Linked DNA regions of Homo sapiens. The protein of the gene in region 1 interacts with the protein of each later gene in a pairwise test. Each region holds a gene or a part of one and is shown in the gene's direction. Other genes may lie near its edges.

Evidence for each region.
Region 2: the proteins of TSPAN12 (region 1) and CTXN3 interact in binary tests that used the Homo sapiens proteins (3 or more experiments, as listed by UniProt).
Region 3: the proteins of TSPAN12 (region 1) and TMEM140 interact in binary tests that used the Homo sapiens proteins (3 or more experiments, as listed by UniProt).
Region 4: the proteins of TSPAN12 (region 1) and CYBC1 interact in binary tests that used the Homo sapiens proteins (3 or more experiments, as listed by UniProt).

The regions. Positions count from the first base shown.
Region 1 is NC_000007.14:120,789,483-120,792,144, reverse strand, and holds part of TSPAN12 (tetraspanin-12), read left to right. Parts: intron 1-2,662. UniProt on the Homo sapiens protein: Regulator of cell surface receptor signal transduction. Plays a central role in retinal vascularization by regulating norrin (NDP) signal transduction.
Region 2 is NC_000005.10:127,652,082-127,655,581, forward strand, and holds part of CTXN3 (cortexin-3), read left to right. Parts: intron 1-171; exon of another isoform or gene 172-280; intron 281-968; exon of another isoform or gene 969-1,110; intron 1,111-1,235; 5' UTR 1,236-1,342; intron 1,343-3,500.
Region 3 is NC_000007.14:135,151,072-135,154,571, forward strand, and holds part of TMEM140 (transmembrane protein 140), read left to right. Parts: intron 1-3,500.
Region 4 is NC_000017.11:82,442,086-82,444,919, reverse strand, and holds the end of CYBC1 (cytochrome b-245 chaperone 1), read left to right. Parts: intron 1-328; coding exon 329-473; intron 474-795; coding exon 796-916; 3' UTR 917-2,327; downstream 2,328-2,834. Other genes in the region: HEXD (hexosaminidase D), read right to left, coding at 2,328-2,743. UniProt on the Homo sapiens protein: Functions as a chaperone necessary for a stable expression of the CYBA and CYBB subunits of the cytochrome b-245 heterodimer. Controls the phagocyte respiratory burst and is essential for innate immunity.

The DNA.
Region 1 (2,662 bases):
CAGCTGAGGGGAGCAGGGATGGGAATAGGGCAAATGATAATTCCATAGCACTTGCTGTTCCTAAGAGATTCAGCAGCTTTTCGTGAATAAACGCTCCTCAGATTGCCGCAAGACTTTGGTTAATTTCCAGAATTCTAGAAAAATTGAGGTTAACAGGTTTTTTACCAGTGTTTTCATTGATTATATGAGTAGAGATTCTTTGGAGGTCCTTCCCATGCCAGTTTTGCTATGTCACTCTACAAGTGCTTTTTTGCCATGTTTTTAAAAGATAATAAGTTGAATTCATGACTTCCAAGGACCCCTCCCATTCTAGAGTGTTCAGTATTAATAGGTCTCATTCCCCAGCCATCCTAGGTGATAGAATTTACTGTACCATTTTAAAAATAAATGTGATTGTTTAAGATAAACTGAAATAGACTTTAAACAGTGCCAAGATATGAAACATGATAAACTGTACTTAATTATCAACCTCTGCCTTGTTTTATTCACAGATTTGAAAAGGAAACATTACTTTTCTGGCACAGTTTCTTAGCTTAAAATGAATTAGTCTAAAGAGGTAGGAGATCTTAAGCCAATATAGATACAATTTAAGCCCCAGAGACTATTGAAAGGGTAAAAATCAAGTAATTGACTGACAGCATTTCACAGAGTTGAATCATCGGCATATATATTTATTGAATGGCTTACTTTTTTGAATAACTAATACATTGTTATTAACTATAGTCACCACGTTGTATTGTAAACCTCTTGAACTTATTCCTCCTAACTGAAATTTTGTATCCTTGAATGGTTTACCTCTAAATCTTTTTTTTTTTTGAGACAAGGTCTCCCTCTGTTGCCCAGGCTGGAGTCCAGTGGGGCGATCTCAGCTCACTGCAACCTCTGCCTCCCGGGTTCAAGCAATTCTCATGTCTCAGCCTCCCGAGTAGCTGGGATTTCAGGCATGCACCACCATGCCCAGCTAATTTTTGTATTTTTAGTAGAGACAGTGTTTCACCATGATGGCCAGACTGGTCTCAAACTCTAAACCTCAAGTGATCTGCCCGCCTTGGCCTCCCAACGTGCTGGGATTACAGGCATGAGCCCCCACACCCAGCCAGTTTGCCTCTAATTCTGAAATCTATTATAATTATTATTACTAAAATATTAATATATTCATGCTAATTATTCACTAAAAGTCCATTTTTGTACTAAGTACCGAGCACATAGGTAAGGAATCAGCTAAACATGATCCAAGGCTGTTTTATATCAATTTCTTCAAAGATAGATGTGAGAAAATAGTGCCACATTATTTGGTAATGATGTTAAATGAAGTTGCCATGCAAATTAATTTTCCAGATGTCTGAAGCCAAACCTTTTTAACTTAACAAATTTTGAGGTGACTCTTCCCGAACTATGTAAAATATTTCTCTGCTTCATCAGGAAGCTAATGATCTAATGTCTCAGGAGCAAGTAATCATTTTGGACAGTTATCTCATTGTCCTGTAAAACAGTAGCAGCCACCTTGCTCTGTGCAGAAGTACTCACTGGTGACATAATGCTGTGCTTCTGGTGTTTTCATACTCTTTCATGAAGTGTTGTGCCTCGTACTTTTCCATTAATATCTGCTAATCATAGATTTTCCATCTATTTTTAATTTGATCTTTCTACTTTCTAATCTGTGAACTGACACATCAGACAAGAGATTGTACCTACTGGGTTCTTAACATGTATGAGGCACTATTCTAAGTGTTAAAATGTGTCTGTGCATTTAATCCTCCCAACATCTCAGACAGGTAAGCACTATTATCATCTATGTTTTTAGACAAGAAAACTGAAGCACAGAGAGATTAAGTAACTTGCCCCAAATGACATAGCAGTTCATGATCTTAACCATTATACTATACCGTTGAAGTGGCATCGTTCCTCTGGGGTAATACCCAAGGTTAGTTGTCTTAGGCCAAGGAAATCAAGGATGCGAACACACAAGGAGTGAGGTTAAGAGTGGAGGTTTAATAGGCACAAGAAAGAGAAGAACTCTCTCCTGCAGAGAGGGTTCCCGAGTGGGTTTTCCGGTCCACAGCAAAATGCAATAGGTTTTAAAGATGAGCTTGAGGAGGCGGAGTCTGATTTACACAGGGCACGAAAGATTGGTCAGATCAGGTGTACCATTCGCATAGTGCATGAAAATCTGGCCACCCCCCACCCTAATCTTTTATTGTGCAGATGGTCCTCTACTTGGCTGGCACCATATTACCTGTTTCTTTACTGTATACACAAAGACAAGGGACGATGGACCCTCCATGTTGAACATACGTGGCCCCCAGGTAGCCCTTTTCTGTTGGCACAGCTGCTGGCATTCACCTGTGCAAGCTTCCAGCTTGCTTGTCTATGTCTACAGCTCAATTTTTCAGGCAGTTCTATTAATGATTTTGGAGCTGCTTTTTGTTAAAAGGGAAATTCCACCGAGGACTCTTTTACCCTCACTATCTGCCTAAATAATTTCTATCTCCTGTATCACTGTGTCATATAAAGATGCTTATTAAAACAACACATAAACCTAAGAGTGAATGAGCTCTTATAGAATACTTGAGTGGAACTCTTTGTAAAATACTTAAATTTTGGTGAGTTGTCTTTGTGATGTCTATGTTAGTTTCCCACAGAATGTATGTCTATGTCTGTG
Region 2 (3,500 bases), on another chromosome or scaffold:
TAACTTTCAATTTCTGGCTGATTTTTATATTTCAGATTCCACCCATCAACACGGAGGCCAAGGAAAATTTAATGAGCCAAATAACTTATGGCTCTTCAAATTACAAGATCTGTGGGTTTTAAAGTGTCATTGTGACTTGAACTAGCTGTCTTTCTTTCAAACAAGACTTACTTCAAATGTGATGGTCCAGCACCTCAGTCCGGCTTGATGACTTGTGCTTTTGTTTTTCCTCTCTGCATCAGTTAGCTGGCACCTCGGGTTTTGAATTCAGTTCCCTGGACTGTAAGGGGTTGAAGATTTGATTTAACTTATATTTAAAAAGGCAATGATCCCAGAACAGCAAATAATTCCTCAAGGAGCTTATTGTGTAATAAGGAGGAGATAAACACTGTCAAGACTCGCACTGTAATCAGTGCTGCCACCGAGTACAGGTGATGTCTCTGGAGATGGAGTAAAAAACACCCCATCCTTGGTGAAGGGAAACAAAGAAGGCCCCACCGAGAAGTGGGTATTTGGTGTGAACCCTAAGGGAGGGAGAGATGGAAAGAAGGAGAGGAAAGATGCTTGCCTCATAGTGCTTGCCTCCCCTCCTCTCCACAGATGGAAAGAAGGAGAGGAGGCAAGTATTATGAGGTAGGAAACCTGGAGGTGTTAGAGCACAGCAGGTATTGGATCAAGCTGAAAAACAGACAAAATGAGGACATTCTCCACAGGTGTCCACAGACTCAGTTACACGGAAGTTTATTCTGATCAACACATTGGCCATTTTACTGAGAACTAAATGTGATTTGGTGTTGACTCCTTTCTAAACTTATAAAAATAAAACTCAGATCTTAAAAATTCCATTGTCAGCATAGGTCCTAATCTGTGGTCCGGAAAACATCTGGGCATCAGGCCCACAAGGGGGTTAATGGGCTGTGGACACTGGGGTGCAAAGGTTTTCTGAGGGGAAGAGTGGTGAGATCTGGGCTTAAAAAGATGAATCGAGATGCAGTGTGTAGGAAGCATGGGCAAGGGATGAGGAACGCCACTTTGAAAATTACTAAAACTAAAGCAAGTGACTAAGAGTGTGAATGACCCTGGCTGCAATGACTACGCCTGCTGGGCTTCGTAAGTAATTATGGGTGTCTTCTGTTTTTGTCAGTATCACAAGGGAGCTTGACTCGAGCAAGGGAATGTATTATATGACTTTTGAAAAGGGTATCTTTTAATTAAGGTTTTCTTTAATTTTTCAGTATTAAAATTAGACTCTATTTCCTGAGCACCCACAAATGGACCTGACAAAGGGAAGACACAGATGTACTGCGTGATGAGGAAAGCCTATCAGGATTAAAATATGGCTGTGAGTAACTGTGGTCCTTCTTTATACTTAAAATAGCTGCCATGTGTTATTATGAAGGCTTCTGATGGTGGTATCAAAATCCTTTGAAATAATAGACTTGCACAGATTTCCCTGGTCATCTAAAAGAAAGATGTCATTATTCAGTTAAAAGCAAACTTGCACATTTTCTAAGAATCATTTTTACCAAAAAGGGACATTTTACTGCGAGACAGACATTTAAAAATTTACATGTCTTGAGATATTTTTGTATTGTGGTAGCAAAATGATTACATTTATTTCTTTTTCTCCACCTTATAATAGCTGATGCTTCCTTCAACTTATACATGCTGTTGGAGCTTTCTAAATCGGTAAATTATTGATTAGCTGATTGCAGGTTTAAAATCAAGCAGACTCTTCCAGGGATTTCAATCAGTCCTGGGCAAAATTGTGAATTAGTCAGCATTGGTTTCTGGATCTCTTTATCCCTTTAGCAACCACCTCCTGATTGTCTCTACCCACCATCCCTCATCCCTCCCCTAGGGCTCTCCAGTGGGCCCCCTGTTCACACCACCATGCCTGTCTTCCTGTCCTGTCCAGGAGTCCCTCATTCCCAGCTAGGTCTTCCTTCAATCGCCTTTCTACTTACCACACTTTCCCCTCCTTCAGGTGGGAACGGTCCTCACAAATTCCTGCTAGCACATTAATGTGCCACTTTCCTAGGTAAAATATTGCAATTTAGTAGGAGACGTTGATACTTTGACCAAAAGCAGTTATTTTTATAGGAACTTGGGCACCACAGTGTGCTGGGAGAGGAGAGGATTACAACTCCCAATGTGCTACAGAGTTTTAAAAATTCTTTCACCTCTATTTGCTCATAATTTGGTATATCAGGAAAGGTTTGGTGATGAAGACATTGGAGTATACACATATTTATATTTTAGGAGGCTTCTCAATGCAAAGAGGGTTAACCTTTCCTTTGTACCTTGCCTTTTAATCAGTAGAGGATGGTAAAACTTCAAATTAAAACTGATTTTAAAAATCATTCTAATACTTGGCATCCTCGTGCAGAATCTGAGTCCCAGAGTCATTCCTAGGGTGACTGAAGAGGCAGATATGGCAGATAATCTGAATCAGGATGAATAAGTTATTTGCTGGAATTTCTGGAATGGTTGCCTACCACTGCAGCCCCCAAATGAATGGTTTGCTCGCTGTAAATCCTGAGTTGTGGGTGAAGCCTAGAAAGTATGAGAGTTGATCCAGGAGAGAAGGATTTGGCATTTGCCCTGTATGGAAGAGAAGGCTGGGGAAGACTACTCCTGGGGTCACAATGTTGCTCATCAAGTGGAGATCCCCGGTGGGAAGGGAGGGACTGAGCAAGGTATCACCGTCCTAGTCAGCCTGCTTGTGCTGAGGAGGTCATTCTCAAGGACTCAAAAGGTTCTCTATCTAGTTCTTACCTGAATTTTTGGATTTCACAGATCCAGAAATCCTTACATCAGTTATACAGTTAATGGTCTTTTCTCTTCTTATATTTCCTTTTTGGATTATATGGTGTTTTCCTAAAGAACTTTCTGAAAATGGCCAGGCATGGTGGCTCATGCCTGTAATCCCAGCACTTTGGGAGGCTGAGGTGGGTGGATCACCTGAGGTCAGGAGTTCAAGACCAGCCTGACCAACATGGAGAAACCCCGTCTCTACTAAAAATACAAAATTAGCTGGGCGTGGTGGTGCATGCCTGTAATCCCAGCTACTAGGGAGGCTGAGGCAGGAGAATCACTTGAACCTGGGAGGCGGAGGTTGTGGTGAGCTGAGATCGCACCATTGCACTCCACCTTGGGCAACAAGAGCGAAACTCCGTCTCAAAATAAAAAAAAAGACTTTCTGAAAATGCATACCTGTCTCGGCTTTGTTGAGAATGGACAAAGAACAGGACTCTGGCCTCATTTGGGCTGGATGGAAAAAGGGCATAGAATGAGATTCTGATAATCCTGCAAGGAGAGCAGGAATCAAAGTGAGAGGATCCTCAGTAGGATATGAAAAAGCAAGGAGTATGTCAGGGATGGCCTCAGCATCTGCTCCTCTGTCATCAGCGGGCTTTCCTTTGGCCCAGCCCTTGGAGAATTTTATATTTCATATGATTAAGTATAGTTTGAATATTTTTGGTGGACACAGATGGCCC
Region 3 (3,500 bases), about 14 Mb from region 1:
TGCTTCTGACTTTATGTTATAATCTCATGGTATAGTCCTATTTTGTCTGATAAAGCTGTTTTATTTACATGGAATAATTAAGTAAATCAAAACATCACAGCATTCATTAAAAACTTGGTGGTTGGGATGGCTGTCCACAGAAAACACTGGTGAAATCCAGGAGCTGCCACCACCTACACACTGTTGAAAAACACTGCAGTAGCCCTGTTTTGAAAAGAATTAGAACCTGGACTCATGTTTCTACCAAAGGAAATATGACACATTTCCCTTTCTTCTTCCCTTTTTATTTTTGTGACAGCCACACCTAAACCATGAGCACACTGATCTTCAATGTGTTCCACCAGAAATATTTTAGCCAGGACTGGTGGCCTCTGACAAGTAAACCTGCGCCCTTGTTCTATGCCCTGGCAAGCTCTGTTGCCCCGGCTTTATTCTGCTAACATTTTCTTCCCAGTTCTCCTCTCTCCATTCAGGCGACACACCCAACCATGTCTACCTGACTCTCCGTCAATTCCCGTTTCTCCCACTGAGCTATTGCTTCAGCATCATGACCAGAGCAGACACATTGACCCAGTTTGTGTCAGGCCCCAAGCCCTCTATATGTGAGTGAACTTCCTTCAGTCTCACAACAGCCCATGAGGAACGTGACAACTGATGCATTACAGATGAGGATGTGAGGCTCAGGCTGGCTATGTAACTTGCCCAAGGTCATATGACTAGTGAGTGACAGAACGACGACATGCTCCCAGGTCATCTGGCTCTAAAACCCATGCTCCTTACCACCACACTGTGCTACCTCTCAACAGGCAGCTGCATCCTGGAGTCATCACAACCAAACATAAATGAGACCAGCTTCCTAGAGTTCATCTCTGGGAATGAACCCTGGCACTATTTGTCTTCCTAGAATCTCACCACTGTCAGGCTGGTAGCCTGGGCTTAACTTCTCTGAGCCTCAGTTTTCTCTCTATCGTAGTAATAATTTAAATAATACTTACCAGGTCATGTTCTAAATGCCATGCACAAATTACTTCATTTAATTTCCATAACATCTACAAAATAAGTTATATAATTAAAGCCATTTTACAGATGAAAAATCTAGGCAGAAGGATGTTAAGTAACTAAGGTCACACAGCTGGTGAATGGAAGAGCAGAGTCTTGAACCCAGAAGCCATAGCTTCAAGGTCCATGCTCAGAACCAGTATTCCACACTGTCTTCACTACGTCAAATGGGAACAGTGATAATAACATCCACACAAGGGTGTTGTGAAGATTAAATGAGTTAATGCACGTAAAGGGCCAGGCCCCCAGTTAGAGGTAGATCCTCATGGTGATTAACAATGCAGCCTGACAGGCTCCATCATTCACTGGCTGTGTGAACTTGGGCAAGTTACTGACCCTTACTAGGCCTGTCTTCTTCTCTGGAAAATGAAGATGAAAACAGTAACTCTACCCTACATGGTTGTAAGAAATTAATAAGACAATACCTGTTAAGTGCTTAGCACAGGGCCTGGCATATAGTAAATTCTCAAGAGATTTTGAGGTCTGTTTTTAATTATTAATAAGTTCTCACTAAAGTTAGATTCCTTCTCAGACACCTTCCACTGATCAAAGAGTCTCATCAAAGCAAGTTCTTCCCTCCCTGGTCCCCTTTGGCTTTCTGAAATCATTAATTAAAAGAAAGGCCCTAGGAACCTAATGGCTTACCTGTTTTTTCTTTTAATATTCTACTCCGCAAAATTTGCAAAGTGTGTAATGTTTAACAGCAGCAAAATTAAAACATGTAAGTTCCATGCGGCAGTCCTCAAGGCCATGATAGCAACTGCTGCTGGTGGTGCCCGATGGGGAAGGGGCTGCCAAACTATGCATCTGACCAAGGACTAATATCCAGAATCTACAAGAACACAAACAACTCAACAAGAAAAAACAATCCCATTAAAAAGTGGGTAAAGGACATAAACAGACATTTTCCAAAGGAAGACATACAAGTGGCCAAGAAACATATGAAAAATGCTCAACATCACTAATCACCAGATAAATGCAAATTAAAACCACAATGAGATACTATCTTACACCAGTCAGAATGACCATTATTAAAAAGTCTAGGCAGGGCATGGTGGCTCATGCCTGTAATCTCAGCACCTTCAGAGGCCAAGGTGGGCAGATCACGAGATCAGGAGATCGAGACCATCCTGGCCAACATGGTGAAACCCTGTCTCTACTAAAAATACAAAAATTAGCTGGGCATGGTGTCACGCACCTGTAGTCCTAGCTACTCGGGAGGCTGAGGCAGAAGAATTGCTTGAACCTGGGAGGCAGAGGTTGCAGTGAGCTGAGATCATGCCACTGCACTCCAGCCTGGGCAACACAGCAAGACTCCATCTCCACAAAAAAAAAAAAAAAAAAAAGTCTAAAAACTCTAAAAACAGCAGATGTCGTCAAGGATGTGGAGAAAAGGGAATGCTTATACATTGTTGGTGGGAATGTAAATTAATACAACTTTTAGGGAAAACAGTATGGAGATTTCTCAAAGAACTGAAAAACCACGCAATCCAGCAACCTGGGGTATCATATTTATTGATTTGCATATGTTGAACCATCCTTGCATCCCTGCAATAAATCCCATCTGATCATAGTGTATTATCTTTTTGATGTGCCATTGGATTTGATTTACTAGTATTTTGTTGAGGATTTTTGCATCTACGTTCACAGGGATATTGGTCTGTGTTTTCATTTTCTGCTGTGTCCTTGTCTGGTTTTTAGTATCAGGGTGACCCTGGCCTCGGAGAATCAGTTAGGGAGAATTCCTTTCTCCTTGATTTTTTAATAGTTTCAGGATTATTGGTATTAGTTTTTCTTTGTATGTTTGGTAGAATTTGGCTGTGAATACATCTAGTCTTAAGCTTTCTTGGGAGTTTTTTATTATTGATTCAATCTCACTACTCATTATTGGTCTGTTTAGAAGTTCTATTTCTTCCTGGTTCAATCTTGGGGGATTTTGTGTTTCCAGGGATGTATCTATTTCCTCTAGTTTTTCTAGTTTGTGAGCATGCAGTTGTTCATAATAGTCCTTGATGATCTTTTGCATTTCTATGGTATCAGTTGTAATGTCTTTTTCATTTCTGATTGTGTTTATTTGGATCTTCTTTCTTCTTGGTTAATCTAGCTAGTGGTTTATCAATTTTGTCTATCTTTTCAAATAATCAGCTTTTACTTTCATTGATCCCAAGAACTAATATATGAACTTTTAGTTTCATTGATCCTTTGTAAATTTTTTGTCCCTGTTTCATTTAGTTCTGCTCTGATCTTTATTTTTTCTTTTCTGCTAACTTTGGATTTGGTTTGTTCCTTTTCTAATTCCTTGAGGTGCAATGTTAGGTTGTTAATTTGTGATCTTTCTACTTTTTTGATGTAGGCATTTAATGCTATAAACTTCCCTCTTAGCACTTCTTTTGCTGTAACCTGCAGGATTTAGTACAATGTGTTTTTGCATTCATTTCAAA
Region 4 (2,834 bases), on another chromosome or scaffold:
ACCTTGGGGAGACCTGGAGGAACAGTGCAGTGTAAAGATGGCCTCGCGCTGAGCGGGTCCCCGCAGTCGGCACTCCCAGGAGAACCAGCGGGCTGTGCATGTGACCCGCCAGCCTGCACCGCGGGCACGTCCTTCCCACCCAGAGGACCCTGCACTGCCTTCAGGGCCACAGCAGTCCTCCGGGGCCCAGCCTCAGGCAGGAAACAGCAAATGCTTTTGCTGCCAACCAAGTGTGGCTGTCGCTTTCGATGATGCCAGTGGCGCTGGTGCGACTGCCGGGCAGCATGTGTGGGCGGGGATGGCTCGGCCACTGACCGTCTCCCCGCAGTGGTGGTCCTGCTCCATGATGTCCGTGATGTGAGCGTGGAGGAGGAGAAGGTCCGGTACTTCGGGAAAGGCTACATGGTGGTGCTCCGGCTTGCGACGGGCTTCTCCCACCCCCTCACGCAGAGTGCAGTCATGGGCCACCGCAGGTAAGGCTGTGGGACTTTGATCTGGCCGGAGCTGCAGCCGTAGCAGGTCACTCCCGTTCCTGACTGCCCAGAGCTATGGGGCAGCTGGGAGAGGAGATGAGTTTGTGGACGGGACACAGAGGGGCCCACGGGAAGCGTGTGCAGGCTCAGGGGCAGCCCCACTGTGACGGGGAGGCTGGGAGCAGGCCAGGAAGTGCTGGGTCCAGTTTGGGAGCTCCAGGGTCTGCGGGAGGTAGGTGGTCGAGGAGGAGACTGCTGTGGGGTCTCACGGTGCCCTATGCCGAGGTGACCTGACCTTCCTCCCGTTGCCGGCCTCGCCCAGTGATGTGGAAGCCATCGCCAAGCTCATCACCAGCTTCCTGGAGCTGCACTGCCTTGAGAGCCCCACAGAGCTGTCTCAGAGCAGCGACAGTGAGGCCGGTGACCCTGCAAGCCAGAGCTGACAGCCCCACTGTGCCTGAGCCCGTGCACCGCCCACAGGACCCATGGCACATTCCCGGTGTGCCTGAGCCCGTGCACCGCCCACAGGACCCGTGGCACATTCCCGGTGTGCCTGAGCCCGTGCACCGCCCACAGGACCCGTGGCACATTCCCGGTGTGCCTGAGCCCGTGCACCGCCCACAGGACCCGTGGCACATTCCCGGTGTGCCTGAGCCCGTGCACCGCCCACAGGACCCGTGGCCTTGGCTTCAGTTGGTGCCTCCAGCCGAGTTGGCCTATTGCCTGCTCATGCTGCTGCTTGCACACTGCATGAAACAGCAGGCCAGACCAGGACATCCAGACTTTCTCCATCGTGAGGCCTGGGCCTGCCTTTCTGCAGCCGGAGGTCTCGCCAGCCCTGGACTCCTGCTTTGGGCCACAGCAAGACCTCGGGCGAGTGGAGAGGCGGGGCCAGGCCGGGCCCTTGTGGGTGCTGATGCTGCATGTTGTCCCCGACACAGCGTCCTCTCCCTGGTGGACATCCCCAGCGGTCAGGTGCTTCCCCAAGGGCAGTGAGGGGTGAACATCCAGGGCCTACCTGGCTGTGCACGCTGCAGCCACACTGTGGAAGCTGCCCCTCCCCGAGGACCCGCCTCCCTTGCTGATGCCAGGATCTCGGCGCATAGACCACTCTGCCCCAGCGGTCGTCACAGAAAGGTCTCTCTGTTCCTCACACTCAGCTTCAGCATAAGCTGTGAGGCCAGAAAAAAGGTCAGCTCTTCTAGTATCGTGCAGTGCTTAAAAACCGGGAGCTCCAGCCGGGCGCAGTGGTTCATGCCAGTAATCCCAGCACTTTCGGAGGCCGAGGTGGGAGGATTGCTTGAGGCCAGGAGTTCAAGACCAGCCTGGGCAACACAGCAAGATCCTGTCTTTGTAAAAAAACTAACCAAACAGGAAAAACTGGGAGATTTTCTGCAGAAATTGAGTTCCAGCCTCTCTCGAACCTGGGAAGACCTGGCAGGAGGGGGCTGGGCTCTCGGCTACAGACTTCTCCCCACCCCGTAGGAGCTGAACGCCAACCATCCTGACCCGCCAGTGCTCTTGGTCTCCTGAGTGTACCCAGGTCCTCCCAGGTGCGGTGTGCACCGAGCGCGCCTGGCCTGATGCCCTGGCCTGTGAGCTGGGGACTCCTGGGCCCTGTGAGCCCCTAGGCGGCAGGCCCAGGAATGGCTGGGTAGGACAGGGAACACCTTTGCCCCACGTCTGGCTGTGACCTCGGTGAAAGCCGACAGGAGAGAGATGGGACCCTCCTCCTCAGTAGTGGCTGCCAGTCCCTCGTTGCAGGACAGGGTCATCATAACCATAAATAACCCTTCACGTGTCACCTGCAGCTTCCACTCTTTATTTCCAAAGAATCAGTGTCACACATGCAGATCACAAAGCGGGTCTCCCTGTGCTGCTTCCTTCTGTGTTTTCTAGTCTCTCCCCCAGGGGCTGCCCAGGGCCCTCAGGAACTGAGTGTGGGCAAGACACTGCTGGGCCAGAGGGCACGACGCCCACGTGGGCCCGTATTGCCCAGGCCATTTGGCAGTGCAGAGCCCCCCCAGCCTCCAGCAGGAGCCCCCTGGCATGAGCTCTCCCCTCAGGGGTCCTGAGCAACGTCCCTGCCAGGGCTGGTGGGTGGCAGCGGGGGGGCAGACACCTCGCTGAGGTCCTGCAGCAGAGCTTGCAGCCGCTGCAGGCTGGGGTGCACGTTTTCCTCCAGCCACTCCTCCACGGCATCCGGGTAGAAAGCCAGCTGCAGGGCAGCCTCCAGCTCCTGCACGAGGGTGCTCCACTGTGCCAGGAGGCTGCAGGTGAGGGCGCCATGAACGCACAGTCTGCACACTTGGGACTTGCCCTCAGCCCCATGGTCAGTACTGCCCTGTGCCTCAGTTCACC